Linked DNA regions of Homo sapiens. The protein of the gene in region 2 purifies or fractionates together with the protein of the main gene of each other region. This does not show direct contact. Each region holds a gene or a part of one and is shown on either strand. Other genes may lie near its edges.

Evidence for each region. Proteins that work in one complex are often made in the same cells at the same time.
Region 1: the proteins of ZNF563 (region 2) and LRP1B purify together in Homo sapiens (affinity purification with mass spectrometry; 2 studies listed by BioGRID and IntAct, with this or other methods). This does not show direct contact.

Annotation. Positions count from the first base shown.
Region 1 is NC_000002.12:140,230,857-140,234,516, reverse strand, and holds the end of LRP1B (low-density lipoprotein receptor-related protein 1B precursor), read left to right. Parts: intron 1-1,190; coding exon 1,191-1,331; 3' UTR 1,332-3,094; downstream 3,095-3,660. UniProt on the Homo sapiens protein: Potential cell surface proteins that bind and internalize ligands in the process of receptor-mediated endocytosis.
Region 2 is NC_000019.10:12,319,406-12,324,473, forward strand, and holds part of ZNF563 (zinc finger protein 563), read right to left. Parts: intron 3,307-5,068; coding exon 3,180-3,306; intron 1,928-3,179; coding exon 1,867-1,927; intron 429-1,866; coding exon 1-428. UniProt on the Homo sapiens protein: May be involved in transcriptional regulation.

The sequences.
Region 1 (3,660 bases), on a different chromosome or scaffold from region 2:
TGTTATTCTTAGCAAAGAAGCTCTAGCCAGAAATTAAAACTGAATAAACTTTTGATTTTATTCATTTCCTCTCATAGTGGTTTATTTAATATATACAAATTTGACGTGCAGTTAAATAGACTATACTTTAAAATGTGTCATCATATTGAGAAATTACAGACGGTCTAACAAAACCACTCTCAAAAACATGTTTCAATTAAGTAACTGGTGTTTAGAGAAAGCTGTTCTGTCTAAAGTTACATAGTTCATTTTAAGCAGAAGAGGAATAAAAATATGCATTATCAAGATTCCTAGGGATGAGAATTCTCTCCCTTATCGTCTTTCCCATCAACTGTTTTCATCCTCATTTTCTATCATGTTTGTCTCAATTGCATGGCTCAAAGATTATAATGTTTCCTTGTTGTAACTAAGATTTAATGTACTGTTTTTGGAAAGACGAAACAAAAAATAAGGAAAACAAACACTAGGCAAAATTTTCTTGGGATAAACTGCAATTTGTTAAATAGTGAACATTGTATGTATATGTTTTCCAACTCAAAGAGGTCAGCTGCTGCATGCCTCTAATTCTACTTCAAAATGCTATGTTTGTGAAACTTAAGATGACTGTGTACATCACAATTCTTTGAAAAAGTCCAAAAATATTTCTAATAAGTACACACAGGTTGTTTGAGGCAAAAATATTGCTTTAAAAATCTGATACACTAATGCATTTCTTTACATTTTTGTTTACTTGTTTTTAAGTTCATGTTGAAAAATTATAAGCACCAAACAAATGTTTTTCTGAAAACACATCTTACTTGCCACGGATAGGCTTGTAATAGCAATAAGGGGGACAACACAAAAACTGAAAACATGACAATTTAGTTTCACATTTTATGCTTTTATAATAAAGTCTCAGTGAACATAGCTTTTACAAAGATTTTTTTCTGGCTTTTTGTATATGGCAAAGCTCCTCTTAGGTTCACAAGTTACTTGCAAAATGTAAAATTATGTTTCATTTAATACCATGCTTGAGTTGAGTAAAGTCTGTAAATGTAACATGTAAATAACCTTTAAATCATTACTATTTAATAAATTAAATGTATTGCATATAAATATTGTTACGATTAGGAGATGGACATTCTAGGAAGTAAATAATTAATGTGGCCAAGACCAGTAATAAAATTATATTTATTTTTTTTCTCCTTCAGCCAACAAATTACTCCAATCCGGTATATGCAAAATTATATATGGATGGGCAAAACTGTCGAAACTCCTTAGGAAGTGTTGATGAAAGGAAAGAACTGCTTCCAAAGAAAATAGAAATTGGTATAAGAGAGACAGTGGCATAATCAGTGATATCTTTTATATGCTGTATAAATGTATAAAATATAAGGATTACTTTTGTATGTTCCAACAGTATTATACTTGTTTTGGCATCAGCATTACCTCTTTCTTTATCTTTTTCCTGGTTAATTGTTTTCTGAGTTTTTTGGGTTTTATTTTTTGCTGATGACTATTGATTGACCATTTGTATGGTATTTTTATGAAAAAGAACTGCACTACAGTACAATTTACAACAATGCTGCTGATATGACACACCTTTGAATTTGTTAAAATTAAAAACAACGTATTCCTTTGTAGTGTGAATATGAGCAATCTATTTTATATGAACTTTTTTGGTTGTACTTAATCAACGAGGAGAATCTCTGCACTTTTCCATTATACGGTTTGAAGGCTGTAATACAGTGTCATATTATTTTTCTGTTTAAATTGATGGAAAAATGATTGAATGGTCAACTCTCTTCTTTGTGCCCATAAAGATCGATTCAGACTCTGCTGAAAATATATAGCTCTCACAAGTTCAGCATCACCTGCTTTGAAATTAGCCTTAGATTGCCAACCAATAGATGAGAATTTTGAGGAAAAAAATTAAAAATATGTAAAATTAATAATTTGCATGAACACAGATGACTACATTTTCCAAAACTTAGTGGACTCTATGTGATGTACTAAATGTATACACCTTGTAAGCAATAGTTATATTTAGGTGGTAGAACATAGCAAAAATATAACCGAAAGTTGGCCGACTGCACTTGCTATGGAATAAGACCTTTTATTCTCCCTCAGTCTCGAGATAAATAGCCAGCCTAGAGCACAACAGGGCATTGGGTACTTGCATCTTAGGTATTTCTTCCCAGTCACATCCATTTTGTGGAAGATTAACCCAACCCCTTACACTACACTGAACACTAAAGAATAATATATAAGCACACAAATTGGTGACAGAATTTCAATTACGTGAACGCATCCTCTTTGCTAGGTCAAAAAACAAAGGGCAAAGCAGACATTTTAGTATACAGAGTGATTGGCAAATATTTTCAAGATTTAATATGAGCAACCCATTATTTGCCCTATCCAAAATATATTCAAGGGCCTTCCAAGTTGTAGAAGAACAATGATCTTCCCATAATCAAAAGTGGAGAGTCGAAATGCTGTGCCAGTTGCTCTGGTATTCAGGTTTCTCTGGGTTTTACAGAACGCATGGACCCCATTCACGTTTGGTTTGTTTATCTTCAAATTTGAGTTGAAACGAGTGCGATTTATTTAAGTTGTATATAAAAATAAAAGGATAGCATTTTTATACAAATATCTTTAAAGGCACAAAAGATTTATTCACAAGTTTTGGAGGGCTTTTTGTTCCTCTGATAGACATGACTGACTTTTAGCTGTCATAATGTATTAACCTAACAGATGAAATATGTTAAATATGTGGTTGCTCTTTATCCCTTTGTACAAGCATTAAAAAAACTGCTGTTTTATAAGAAGACTTTTTGTTGTACTATGTGCATGCATACTACCTATTTCTAAACTTTGCCATATTGAGGCCTTTATAAACTATTGATTTATGTAATACTAGTGCAATTTTGCTTGAACAATGTTATGCATATCATAAACTTTTTCAGGTTCTTGTTTAAGTACATTTTTTAAATTGAACAGTATTTTTCATTTTGGTTATAATATAGTCATTTTGCCTATGTTTCTACAATGAAGTGTTAAATACTTTATAAAAAATTGTTGACTGACTTATTTAAATGAAATTCTACATATTTAAGAGCTTGTGTTGGGTAGTTTTTAAAAATAAGAAAATTCCTTTATGTAGCTTAAATATTCTGAGAGAACTGTTTTAGTAAACACGGCATTTTTATATCCTTAGAACATAATACACTCCAGGGGAAAACTGATTTCATTGTATCATCTTTCAATGCACAGTAGAGAAGGCATTTTCTGTCTTCATGGAGTAGAAACACTCCCCTTACTTTATCCTTTTCCCTGCCTTCCTGTGCCTGTCAGAGTCTCCATATTGCAATAGAAAGAAAGGTTCTATACACAGTAGCATGACAACCATGCTAAACAAGCCAAAGCTCTTCCTGTCCCTTTCTATTCCCCAAAACTGTACTTTATGGAAAATCAGATTTCCATTAGACGCTATTTCCACATTATTTTGTTAGAATGGTTATTTGCTATACCTACTTTTAGCATCAGACTAGAGATGGAAAATATAGGTGCGTCTGATTTACTTAACATTGAGTTATATTATTTGAAGGGGCCTTCTGATGTCAGAGCTGTGTAAATGCAACTGAAAATATTTCAAAGAACCCACAGAGTGGTGTGATATTA
Region 2 (5,068 bases):
AAAAAGCTTTCCCACACAACTTACATTTATAAGGTCTATTTCCACCTTGCACTACCATGTGTCTTCGAAGGTTTCTACGAGAACTGAAGGTTTTTCCACATTCCTTACACTCATAGCGTTTCTTTCCAGTGTGAGGCCTTCCACGCGACTGAAAGGAGTGATGGTAACTGAAGGCTTTCCCACGTTGTTTATGTGTATGTGGCTTCTCTCCATATTCCTGATACTCATGTGGTTTGTGTCCAGAATCAACTCTGATGTGGCTATTAAGGGATAAATGACCCATTATGACTTCTTCACACTCAGCGCTTTGACATGGATCTTCTCCAGGACAAATGCTGTTGTTCACAATACTATCTCGAATGAGGCTAAATGTTTCTCCACACTGACTACTGTCTTTACTTTCACTGAATCTCTCTACCATATGACATCTGTAAAAAATGAGTAGTACGTTACTAAATAGTTGTTTCTAAATGATTATTTATTTATGTGTATTAATAGGTATTGGATGTACTTTTTTTTTTTTTTCCCTGAGATGGAGTCTTGCTCTGTCACCCAGGCTAGAGTGCAGCGGCACGATCTCGGCTCACTGCAATCTCTTCCTCCCGGGTTCAAGCGATTCTCCTGCCTCAGCCTCCCAAGTAGCCGGGATTAGAGAGGCATACGCCACCACGCCCAGCTAATTTTGTATTTCTAGTAGAGACAGGGTTTTGCCATGCTGGCCAGGCTGTTCTCGAACTTCTGACCTCGTGATCCACCCCCCCTTGGCCTCCCAAAGTGCTGGGATTACAGAAGTGAGTCACTGCGCCTGGCCAGATATACCTTTTTATCATTACCATGCAAAGTGTAGGCTTCATGCCCTGTTTGAACATGAATGAACTGAATGCTATGCAAGACAACCCAACACCAGCTGGGTTTTTTTTTTTTCCTTTTCTTTTTAATTAATTAATTTATTTTTTGAAACAGTATCTTGCTTTGTCACCAGGCTGGAGTGCAGTAGCAGAACGATGGTTCATGCAACCTTGACCTCCTGAACTCAAGTGATCTACCTACTTCAGCCTCATGAGTAGCTGGAACCATAGGTGTGCACCAACACACTTGGCTAATTTTTTTTTTGAGACGGAGTCTTGCTCTGTCGCCAGGCTGGAGTGCAGTGGCGCAATCTCGGCTCACTGCAACCTTCGCCTCCTGGGTTCATGCAATTCTCCTGCCTTGGCCTCCCAAGCAGCTGGGGTTACAGGTGCATACCCCCATGCCCAGCTAACTTTTGTACTTTTGTAGAGACAGGGTTTCACTATGTTGGCCAGGCTGGTCTCAAACTCCTGACCTCAAGTAATCTGCCTGCCTCAACCTCCCAAAGTGCTGGGATTACAGGCATGAGCCACCATGTCCAGCCTCATATGTAAATTCTTATAAAATGTTTTAGGAGGAAATTTTTTAAGAATAAATAAATTTAGGCTGGTGCAGTGACTCACACCTGTAATCCCAGCATTTGGGGAGGCCAAGGCAGGCAGATTGCTTGAGCCCAGGAATTCAAGACCAGCCTGGGAAACATGCCAAAACCCTGTCTCTACAAAAAATACAAAAATTAACGAGGTGTGGTGGCTTGCACGTGTAGTCCTGGCTACTCAGGAGGCTCTGGTGGGAGGGTCACATGAACCTGGGAGGTCGAGTCTTCAGTGAGCCAAGATCATGCCACTGCACTCCAGCCTGGGCAACAGAGCAAGGCCCTGACTAAAAAAAAAAGTTAATTTAAAAAATTAAAAAATAAATTTAAGCTGGACTTGTTCATTTTCTTTGTTTTTAAAATTTCCTTTTACTCTGAGAATCACTTCAGAAACATAACTTTCTCCTGTGAGTGCAAATTACCTTAGATTTCTCCTAGGATTTTTGTACTGATCTTCAGTATTCTGTTCTTCCCATATCATTCCTAAAAGGGAGACCCAGAAAATCACTATACATTATTAGAAAATTATATAAAACAGTAAGATTTTATGTATACTGCAATCATACATGATTCGTTCATCAAACTACAGTTAATTCTGTACAGTTTGGGGGTGGAGGCAGAGTCTCACTCTGTTGCCCAGGCTGGAGTGCAGTGGCACGATCTCGGCTCACAGCAACCTCCGCCTCCTGGGTTCAAGCGATTCTCCTGCCTCAGCCTTCCGAGTAGCTGGGACTACAGATGCGTGCCACCACAACCAGCTAATGTTTGTATTTTTATTGGAGACGGGGTTTCACCATGTTGGTCAGGCTGGTCTCAAACTCCTGACCTCAAGTGATCTTCCCACCTCAGCCTCCCAAAATGCTGGGATTACAGGCATGAGCCACCATACCCGGCCTTACAGTTGATTCTTGAACAACACATGTTTGAACTGCACAGCTCCACCTACATATGAATTTTCTTCAGTCTCTGCTACCCCTAAGACACCAAGATCAATCCCTCCTCTTACTTAGCCTTCTCAATGTAAAGATAAGGATAAAGACCTTTTAATCATACACTTAATGAATAGTAAATATAGTTTCTCTTCTTTATGATTTTCCTATCAATATTTTCTTTCTCTAGTTCACTTTATTGTGAGAATATAGTATGTAATACATGACTTACAATATGTGGATTAATATGGATTAATCAACTTTTTTTTATTATTTTATTTTATTTTATTTTTTTGAGACAGATTCTCGCTCTGTCACCCAGGTTGGAGTGCAGTGGCGTGATCTTGGCTCACTGCGACCTCTGCCTCCTGGGCTCAAGTGATTCTGCTACCTTAGCCTCCTGAGTACCTAGGATTACAGGCATGCGCCACCACGCCTGGCTAATTTTTGTATTTTTAGTAGAGATGGGGTTTCACCACGTTGGTCAGGCTGGTCTCGAACTCCTGACCTCATGATCCGCCCACCTTGGCCTCCCAACATGCTGGGATTACAGGTGTGAGCCACCGTGCCCAGCCAGTCAACTGTTTATGTTACCAGTAAGGCTGCTGGTCAATGGCGGCTTAAGCTATGGTGGACAAAAAGTTAGATGAGGATGTACAACTTCTTTCAGGGCTGTCACCTCTGAATTCTGTGTTGTTCAAGAGTCCATCATATGCCCTTTCCATATTTCAAATCATTGAACAGCACTGATGACCATGAAACAAATGTCTGTAATTGATTAAGTGAAGACATGGTATCATCCTTACTTATACAGTCCAGGTTCCTGATGGTTTCTTGCATCACATATCTGTATAAATTCTTCTGTGATGGACCCAGCAAAGCCCATTCCTCCTGGGTGAAGTTCACAGCCACATCCTCAAAGGCCACTGCGTCCTGAAACATCCCACATAGATAGAGGAGAAAGGTTGAGTGACAGTACTGAAAAAACTATACTCAGTTCATAAACTTCATATGATGCTGTGCTTTCCAAGCATTTATTCAATGATGTAGTAAACTCTCTCATATTCTCTTTACACTCACTTTCTCTCACACAGCCATTTTGATGGTAGAATTCAACATGTTTGGTAAAGTTACAGTTGAATAGGAACAGGTCTCTTCTTGGTGAGTTAAATGAGTCTTATTGCCTGCATCACCCTAATGTCTATTTCTGTAGTAGGTTGTAGTTCTTGTCAAAGTCCTACTGACAAAGTCCTACTACCTATTGTGCAGAAGAGAGCTACCATTAGCAGTCCTGAGACTGCATGTCCTTACAAATTCTTATTCTCAAAGTTGGACCTTTTATGGTGTCTAGGAACTGGATTTAGGGAGTGCCCCACCAATGTAACTAATAACAGAGCTCGATTGTATCTAAACTGTTTGTGCAAAAAGTACATTATTTTCTTAACTCCTATGTTCTGAGAGTTTAGAATCTTACAAACTCAGCAGAGGGAGTGTATGTGATCAGCCACTGCTGAGTTTGAATGGTTGTCCCCTCCAAAACACATGTTGAAAGTTAATCCGCAAAGTGGGAGTAATAAAAGGTGGGGATTGAAAAGGTGATTGAGTCTTGAAGGTTCAGAGCTCATGAATAGATTAATGTATACATGGATCAATGGCTTAATGAATAAATAAGTTATCTCAGGAAGGGGACTGGTGTCCTTATAAGATGGAAGAGACCCGAGTTAGGCACTCCGGCCCTTGCCATGTAATGCTTTATGCCATCTAAGAACTCTGCAGAGTCCCCACCAGCAAGAAGGTTCTCACCAGATGCCCAGCCTTAACCTTGGACTTCCCAGCCTCCAGAACAGTAAAAAACAAATATTGTTCCTTATAAATTATCCAGGTTCAGATTATTCTTAAGCAACAAAAAACAGACTAAGCCAGCCACCAAAAAACACTATAGGCACTGGGTCTCTAATGAGAGACCCTGGTAGATAAAATTTCACATGTTTTTTTGCAACTGATTAGTTGGAGGATTCGGCACATCCTCTGGGATTATACTAACAGAAAATCTGGAAGCTGGTAACTGGTTTCCTCTAGACCAAATGTAGTTAAGCATGACAAATAAATAATAAAAGATATTTCACCATCCCAATGGAAAATTTTTGAACATCTTATTGGGTAATGTCAAAGGAGAAGGAAAGAAGGTCAATGAGAGAATGTAATATTAGAAAAGAACTCAATGTTATCTCTTATGAATATTTATAAAATTCCCTAAATAACTAAAACAGACCTAAATAACCAAAAATTTCACTACCAGCTAGGTACCATGGCTCATGCCTGTAATCTCAGTACTTTGAGAGGCCAGGGCAGATGGACCATTTGAGCCCAGGAGTTTGAGACCAGCCTGGGCAACATGGCGAAACCCTGTCTCTGCAAAAAAATACAAAAAAATTAGCCGGGCATGGTGGTGTGCCTGTAGTCCCAGCTAATTGGGAAGCTGAGGTGGGAGGATCACCTGAGCCCAGGATGTGAAGACTGTAATGAACCATTATTGAGCCACTGCATTCTAGCATGGGTGATACAGTGAGACTCTGTCTCAAAAAAATAAATAAAATTACATTATCAAATCTAATAGAAGTCACAAATGTCTAAAAATGCTAAAAAACCTCCTCACTGGCCGGGTGCGGTGGCTCACACCTGTAATCCCAGCACT